Regions from separate parts of the Homo sapiens genome. Here region 1 is linked to region 2. Evidence: fine-mapped expression QTL. Tissue or cell type: T cells. Region 2 holds a variant in brackets; the other region holds the start of a gene. All regions are shown on one strand. Distances are from middle to middle. Region 1 holds the start of ALOX5AP (arachidonate 5-lipoxygenase activating protein). Region 2 has its middle 34 kb from the start of LINC00398.

What was found. PIP is the estimated chance that this variant, and not a neighbour inherited with it, causes the effect. A credible set is the group of variants that fine-mapping cannot tell apart.
Region 1: ALOX5AP starts here. The variant in region 2 is the best candidate, but not a certain one, in a credible set for the expression of ALOX5AP in T cells (TOPMed, PIP 0.76).

Annotation. Positions count from the first base shown.
Region 1 is chr13:30,733,449-30,737,518 of GRCh38, reverse strand. ALOX5AP (arachidonate 5-lipoxygenase activating protein) reads right to left here and starts at 1,976. Exons shown (of 5, transcript NM_001629.4): 1 at 1,844-1,976. The coding sequence starts at 1,913. All of the region lies in intron 2 of LOC124903146 (a long non-coding RNA gene), which reads left to right.
Region 2 is chr13:30,767,291-30,771,815 of GRCh38, reverse strand. No RefSeq gene overlaps it. Among named protein-coding and RNA genes, the nearest start is that of LINC00398, 34 kb to the left of the region's middle. The variant C/T (reference allele first, on the strand shown) is at 2,030.

The DNA of each region.
Region 1 (4,070 bases), 34 kb after region 2:
GGCTGTCAGGACTCAGACATTTGGCCATCTTTAATCTTACCTCTACCTCCCACTTGTCCCACAGAAGAAGACTTAATCCTATCTGTCAAAAAGAATTCGAAATCTCACCACTCACCTCAATCTGAACAGGGTTTGCTAGACCATGATGGCAAAGTCCAGGAGAAAGCCCTGGGCAGAGCAGGGCCAGTTCCCTGGTGCACCTCCATTAGGAGAGGTGAGGAGAACCTGTCCTTGAAACAGAGAGCTCTGAAGCTTCCCACAGTTCAGCTCTGAATTGAGAGGGAGCTGGAGAGAGTGAGCTCAAACTTCGTAGCTGGGTTCAGCCCCAACTGCACAGGCAGGGAGGGGGCACAAGGTCCCCTGTCCACCGATGCTCCTCAGTTTTATTGATGGGTGTCAGGGGAGAGGCCAGAGGGGAGATCCTTCCAGAGCTGAATAAGTGCTAGCCACCTGCCCACCCATACAGCTACCTTTGCAGAGACTGCAGGCATTGCTGCAGGCTGACCTGTCCATCACTGTAGCTGTTTTGTTTCCTGCTCTATCCGCCTGTACCCAGAATACTATCTGGGCCAGAGCAGGGTCTCTGTACATGTATGCGGGTTGAATAATGGAATCCTTGCCAATTTACAGGGCCAAGGGAGCCCTGTGTGAAATCATAATGGCTCAAGAAAATGGTGGCCTAAATAAGCCATTTGTTCCCTCTCTGAGCTACAACTTTGTTGTGTGTAATTTAGTATAAAAATGTTTGGGTCAGAAAGCCACAAAGTGTAGTTCTTGTAGAAAACATACTTGGAGTGTGTGAAGCTGAGCCTTTCTGGTGCAGAGGCTGAGGGGGAGGCTTGCTCTGTGCCCAGAAGGCTACATCACCAGCATCTGTCCACACTCAAGATGGGGGAAAATAGAATATCCCAAAGTGATTAAATACTCAAAGTTCCAAAAACGTGACAGCATGTCAATGTTCAGTAATCACCATAAAGCTACAGCAGCTGCCCTTAGTAATTACTCTTTTTTTCTCTATCTTAATAAATATAAAACACAAAGCCACTGGAGATAGTTATGAAAGTGGTCTGAGGCAGCCCTAACTCAGAACTTTAGGAAGACAGCTCTACACAATTCTCCCTTTTCCAGATCTAGGTATCCTGCTTGTTTTTTGTTGTTGTTGTTGTTTTTAACTAATAGCAGGAATAATGGAAATGCAAACGCTGAACAGGACAATTTTCCTCTCTCTCTCTCTCTTTCTGAAGTATACACTGCATATGAAAAATGCTTCCAAAATTATACGTGCTAGAGAAAAAGAAGGTATCACCAAAAAAAAAAGTTTCTTCAGGAGAAAAAAAGAAAAAAGTAATATAGAGGAAAAATAATAAGATGATTTTTTCTACGCACCTCCCAAAATCACTTTCTTTTTAGACTGCAGATGACTGGTAACTTCAATTGCACTGCAGATGTTAGAAAAGCCCAGTATCTGAGTAAATGTGTATATCATGTTCCCTTTCTAGTCTTCTCACCTTCCACCCCTTGCCTGGCCACATTAATTAATAGTTAAAATGCTGATCATAGACACTTCGGTGAGGGTTTTAGCAAAACCTTCAAGTTGCAGCCCTGGCTCTAAAAATGGGACTGGTAATCACCACAAAAGTGAAAGACTAAGAGGAGGAAAACCCCAAATTTACACAGAAATACACACAACCCTATACATTCAAATAAAAAGAAGAAAATAAAGATAAGGTAAAAGTGTTTGTGCATGCGCACACACAGACACAATTGTTTAAGCCTGACTTCCAAACAACCATCAAAGAAAATCTCCCCTTCTGTTCTTCCCTGAGTGAAGGGCTTTCCTTACCATTCTGGACCACGCTGATGAGGGTGACGATGGCCAACAGGACAACATTGCCTACAGTTTCTTGATCCATGTTTGCTTCAGGCTCCCCAGAGAGGACTGCTCTGCCTCCAGCTGCACAACCTGCCCTGTACAGGAAGGGGAAGTGAGAGCTTGCACTCTTTCATCATTACAATTTCTGAAGATCCCCGGCACAATTACACAGTGCCTTCTTCTTCCTTTTTTTTTTTTTTTTTTTTTTTTTAACTAACCACCAAAATGCCCTGGCTGTGGTTCAGTGTGTCCCACCAGGAGAAGCAGGGCTTGGCAGAGGAGCACGCAAAGCCAGCACACTCTCCTACATTTCCTTGTCATGGGAAACTTCCCTGAGAGTCTCCAGAATGAATCCTGGACCCAAGACCATGACCAGCACGAGCCCAGCACAGGCACCAGAGAATCTGGAAGCTGCCATCATCTCTGACTTCAGCAAAGAGAAAGAAGGGAAAGTAAACCCAAAACTTTCAGGTCAGACAGAGTGGCATAAACCTGTAACCCCAGCATTTTGGGTGGCTGAGGTGGGAAGATTGCTTGGGCCCAGGACTTTGAGGCTACAGTGAGCCAATGATTATGCCACTGCACTCCAGCCTGGGCAACAGAGCAAGACTGTCTCACACACACACACACACGCACACACAAATGTAAAATGAAACTTTAAAAAAATGTATAGAACACCAAAAGATCTGTGCCCCAAATACTGTCCTTCTTTTTTTGAATTCCAAGAAAAAAAGTGAACACTTAACACACGGTAAGTAGCAGCCACATAAGGTTTGAATGAAGGAAGGAATAAATGGCAGTGGGGAGGGACAGCTGATATCTCCATTTCTTCAGAGAAAAGTAATAAAGGGAATTCATAAATTAAACCAAAGAATTCAAACCAAACCAAAGAATTCAGGTAAAAGGCAGAAATGGAGTTACAGATGATCCCTAAGGGAAATTCCCAAAGGGAACTGACTTTTCTGAGGCAATCGCAGAAACACCTTCCTGGAAATTCTTTTCAACTGAATAAGAGTAGAGTGGCTGTGCTTTCTGAGAAAGTATAAGAGTGGACCTGCTGGGTGGGTGAGGTGGCTGCCTGGTATTCTGCAGCTCAGATCAGTGTGAATGGCAATCCCTCTGAGGTTACATGGAAAATGCAAAATACCTGCAATCTTTGTCCCAGACTTAGCTATTTGGCATTGGTTAAGAGGTGCTTTTATCAAAACTTCACTTTGAAAGGGAACATGGACCACTGTAACTAGTGGCAGCAGGGAGGGCTGCATCTCGGCACGGAAGAGGTCAGTGTAGGGGAAGATATTGCTCCCTCATAGGTACAGTGCCAGAGGCCCGCTTCAATGCCCTCGGTTCAGCTGAGAGAGAAAGGCTGATGAAGGCAGCGTGCAGAGTTGTGTGCGGGGAAGCCAGCAGCCAGGGCTGTCGGGCTGGTCATGACACACTTGGGTACTCCCTGAGTACCTAGGGCACTTTGTAGAGTATAGACTTTATATTAGCCAAGGCTCTCCAGAGAAACTGAACCAATATATAAATAAGTCTCCTCATATATATATATTGCAGATTTATAATAGAAATTGGTTCACATGCTCATGGACACCATGAAGTTTCATGGTTTGCCATCTGCAAGCTGGAGACTCAGAAAAGCTGCTGGTGGAGACCAGTCTGCATTCAAAGGCCTGAGCATCAAGGAGGGCAATGGTGCAAGACCCAGTCTGAATCCAAAAGCTGGAGAACAAGGGGCTCCAGTGTCCAAGGGCAGGAGAAGATGGAGGGCAATGGTGCAAGACCCAGTCTGAATCCAAAAGCTGGAGAACAAGGGGCTCCAGTGTCCAAGGGCAGGAGAAGATGGATGGCCCAGCTCAAGAAGAAGAGGGAATTTGCCCTTCTGCCCGCTTTTTGTTCTATTCAGGCCCTCAGTGGATTGATGACACCCACCATATTGGTGAGGGTGGGAATTCTTTACTTAGTCCGCTGATTCCAGTGCTGATCTCTTTCAGAAACACCCTCCCTAACACACCCAGAAAAAAACATTTTACCAGCTACCTGGGCATTTTTTAGCTCAATCAATTTGACATAAAATTAACTACCACAGAGTTATTACAAGATTGGTTAGGGCTCAGCACTTGCAAGATTTGTATATTCACCTTAGTGAGATCCAATTCATACCTGCAGTTTGGTAAGTTTCAGGGGATGTTTAGGT
Region 2 (4,525 bases):
AATAGACATTTCCAGACAGTTATTGTGGCCATGTTCTGGTTGCCATAGTGCTGACATTGAGGACCCAAATGCATATGCACTAAATTAAGTAATTACACATCAAATGTTTGTTCTTTTGCCCTCTTGTTGATTGGCTGAATGGTTTTTTATAAGTGTGAATCCTGAGAAGGCTTATATTTCATTCTGCTTATGCAATGGGTTCCAGTCCATTAATGGCAAGTCCATTTTAGCAGCAACTTCTTCACAATTAAGGCAAATTTCCATTAAAATTTGTTTACAACAATTGTCAAAAGAGAGACAGAGTTGTGTTCCTTTAGGTAGATCATCTGATTTTCTTAAAGCCTGGTGCTGATTTCTTTTAGGCCAAGTAAGAGTGTGCCAACTTGCAGGACTAGTCAATGTTAACACAAAAGCTTCATATAGACAATATATGCTACCTATCAGCAGAGCATCTAAGTGCTTAGCAAGGATAAGAAGAAAAAAGGATAAACTTCTCTTGGGACTGTGGTCTATTAGCGTGTCAAGCAAATTCTTAATTTGAAGAGCAATTCTGCAGAAATGAACAGAAAGTCCTCTCTAAACATTTTAATAAGAATAACCCCCCGAGCCAATATGCAATTGAGTGCATTACTTTCTAGTAATTTCATTTATACAACAGCTCCACAAGCTGTTTCTTTCTCCATATTCAGATAACCCTAGCCTCTAGGGTGACTGTAAAAGTGATATTTTAATAATGTGCCACATCTGTGATCAGAAATCCATGGTGAAACGCTCTCATGATCATATGCTAACAGCCTCAGATAACTATTTTCCAGATTTAGGCAGGACTGGTTTGATGCTTGTGGTAACTTTCATTGCCACATTTTTCAATATCGTCTGCAAGAAATCATTGCTAAAGATGAGCCCGTAGAATGGGATCCAGCCTTTATTTCAGCTGCGAAGACTTGCCATCTTCCATGGAACTTATAGATCAGCTCTGTTCAATAGGAGTATAATGTGAGCTGAATATGTTATTTAAATTTTTCTAGTAGCCACATTAAAAGTATAAAGACGTGAAATTAAGCCTAACAGTATATTTTATTTAACGCACTATATCTACAAGATTACCATTTCAATATGTAATCAGTGTAAAGCATTATTAATGAGATGTTTTGCATTCCTTTTTCTTTGTATTAACTCTTCAAACTCCGGTGTGCAATTTACATTTACAGCACGTCTCAGTTCAGAGGAGCTACACTTCAAGGGCTCAGGAGCCACACTGACTACGAACTACTGCATTGGGTAGTACAGCTACAGAGCAAAAATCTTCTGAAAAGGTGGTCAACAAACCCCGGATGAAGAACATCTTAACAAGAATGTGAATTTCCAGGCCCTATCCTTGACCTACCAAATCATACCTCTGGGGGTAGCACTAAGGAACTTTCATGTTTTAAGACAGGTTCTGTAGAGGATGCTTTGCTTACTAAAATTTAAGAACATTTCTTAGACTCCCTGTCCCAAATTTGCTTATAGCCCTATAGCCATCACCACCACACCCACCATAAACCCCACCACACGGTCATATAGGTAAGTAGGCACAATTACATAACCCAGTCTGTTCTTTCATACACTCATCAAATATTTTTTTGAGTGCTCATTGTATGCCCGGCCTAACAATATAGGCAAAGCTCCTGCCCTTTGGAAGCTTATATTCTAACGGACAAGGCAAACTGAACAAATAAAGGGGTAAATAAATGATCTAATTTCAGGTGGCAGCGAGTATAAAGAAGTGACACGTGGGTAGGAGGCCGGGGTGGAGGAGGGAGCGTGGAGGAGGAAGGGCCTAGGTGTAGGTGTGGTGGTCAGGGAAGGCTCTGGAGGAGGTGGGTGCTGGGAGACACTGAGTAAAAGGAGGGAGAGGCCCCACTGCATGAGAGAGACCAGTGCATTAGGAAGCCCCATGGTGGGAGCAGCTCCCAGGGCAATGTGGCTGGAACTGAGTGAACGAGCAAGCGAAAGGAGGAGTTGGGAGAGGGGGCAGGGACATATC[C/T]GATGGCACAGAGCCTGCATGGCCACGCCAAGGTGTGTGGGAATTATTCCAAGAGCAGCGAGAATTATCTGGGGGATTTTAAGCAAGTGCGTGTAGCATTAACATCTGATGGGCTGGGCACGGTGGCTCATGCCTGTAATCCCAGCACTTTGGGAGGCCAAGGCCGGAGGATCACTTGAGCCCAGGAGTTCAAGAGCAGCCTGGGCAACATAGTGAGGCTTCATCTGTATTAAAAATTAAACAACAACAACAAAAAATTAGCCAGGTATGGTGGTGCCAGTAGTCCCAGCTACTTGGGAGGCTGAGATGGGAGGATTGCTTGAGCCCAGGTGATGGAGGCCGCAGTGAGATGTGATCATGCCATGGCACTCCAGTCTGGGCAACAGAGCAGGAACCTGTCTCAAAAAAAAAAATAAAAAAATAAAATAAATCTGACAGAGGTGGCTATGGAGACTGTCCAGGAGAGAGAATGGTGGGCCCAGGTGACAGGGATAGCAGTGGAGATGGTGAGATGTGGCAGAGGTGGGTTGGCCGTTAAAGGTGGAGCTGATGGAGCTTGGGGATGATTGACTGTGGGTGGGAGGGCGGAAAGGAATGGAGGAAGGTTCCTTTGTTTGGGGCCTGAGTGACCACCAATGGGACAGTTATTGAGATGATGCTATGGCCTGAATGTTGGTGTCCCCCCAAAATTCAAGTTGAAATCGAATCCTCAATGTGATGAGATTAAGAGGTAAGGCCTTTAGGAAGTGATTAGGTCATGAAGGTGGAGCCCTCATGAGTGGTATTAGTGCCTGCGATAGTTTGTAAGTTTCCCCCCTCTAAATCTCAAGTTGAAAGTTAATCCCTAGTGTGGCAGTGTTGGAGGTGGGGTATCGTTGGAGGTGTTTGGGTCATGGAGGCAGGTCGCTCATCAATAGATTAATGTCCTCCCTCAGGAGTCAGTGAGCTCTCACTCTATTAGTTTCCCCAGTGCTGGTTGTTAAAAAGAGCCTGGCATCTCTCCCCTCTCTCTCTCGCTTCTGCCCTCAACACGTGATATCTGCACGTGCCAGCTCTCCTTCGTCTTCCCCCATGACTGGAAGCGACATGAGGCTGTCACCAGATGCAGATGCCCAATCTTGAACTTTCCAGCCACCCAGAATAGTGAGCCACATAAAGATTTTTTTTTTTTAAATAGAGACAAGGTCTTGCCCCGTTACCCGGGTTGGAGTGCAGTGGCTCAATCATAACTCACTGCAGCCTTGAACTCCACCCACCTCAGCCTCTCAAGTGGCCGGGACTACAAGCACACTTTACAACACACAGCTAATTTTTTAAAATTTTAGTAGAGATGGGGTAGATGGGGTCTCACTATCTTGCCTAGGCTGGTCTTGAACTCCTGGCCTCAAACAATCCTGCTGTTTTGGCCTCCTAAAGGATTAGGGTTACAGGATAAGCCTCCATGCCTGGCCACTTTTTAAAATAAAATAAATTACTCAACCTCAGATGTTCCTTTTAGCAACACAAAATGGACTAAGATAGTGACCTTATTAAAAAAAAAAAAAAGAGAGAGAGAGAGAAAGAAAGAAACAAAAAAAAGCCCAAGGAGCTTCTCGTCCTCTCCTTCCACTGTGTAAGGCGGTAGCGATAAGGCACTGTCTATAAACTGGAAAGCAGGACCTCATTAGACACCGAATCTGCCAGAAACTTGATCTTGGATTTCCAGCCTCTAGAACTGTGAGAAGTAAAGTTTTGTTGTTCAAAAGCCCCCAGTTATGGTGTTTTGTTATAGCAGCCTGAGCTGACTACGAGGAAGACAGATGAGGAAAGCATAGGGTAGGGATAATTGTAAAAACCCAGTTGCACAGATTATCTCTTTGCAACCAGGGAGAATCTCAGTATGAATAATCCTATTTTAGTCTAAATGGAGAGGAGGGAGGAGTTCACTTGTATGTCTCAGCTTCATCTGTTCTTTCACTGTGCCCTTTCCCACAGGAGATAGAAAAATGGTTAATGGTGGCTCACGTCTGTAATCCCAGCACTTTGGGAGGCTGAGGTGGGCGGATCACTTGAGGTCAGGAGTTCAAGACCAGCCTGGCCAACATGGCAAAACCTCGTCTCTACTAAAAATACAAAAATTAGCCAGGCGTGGCAGTGTGTGTCTGTAATCCCAGCTACTTGGAGTTGAGGCACAAGAATTACTTGAACCTGGGAGGCAGAGGCTGCAGTGAGCCAGTGAGCAGAGATCAAGCCACTGCACTCCAGCCTGGGTAACAGAGCCAGACCCTGTCTCAAAAAAAAAAAGAAATTTCTCTGTCTGCCAGGAGGTGGAGGAAACCACAGCCTCCTTTCTTCCCAGGTGGTCATACGTATGAATTCACTCACACACACACACTGCTGCTGCCCAAAAACCTCAGCATCACAACCATTCAGCTTCTTTTGACTCAGTGACGTAGGCAGAATCCCAAAATAACCCCCCCGTGACCCACACTTCTGCAGAATCCCCTTCCGTGGAGT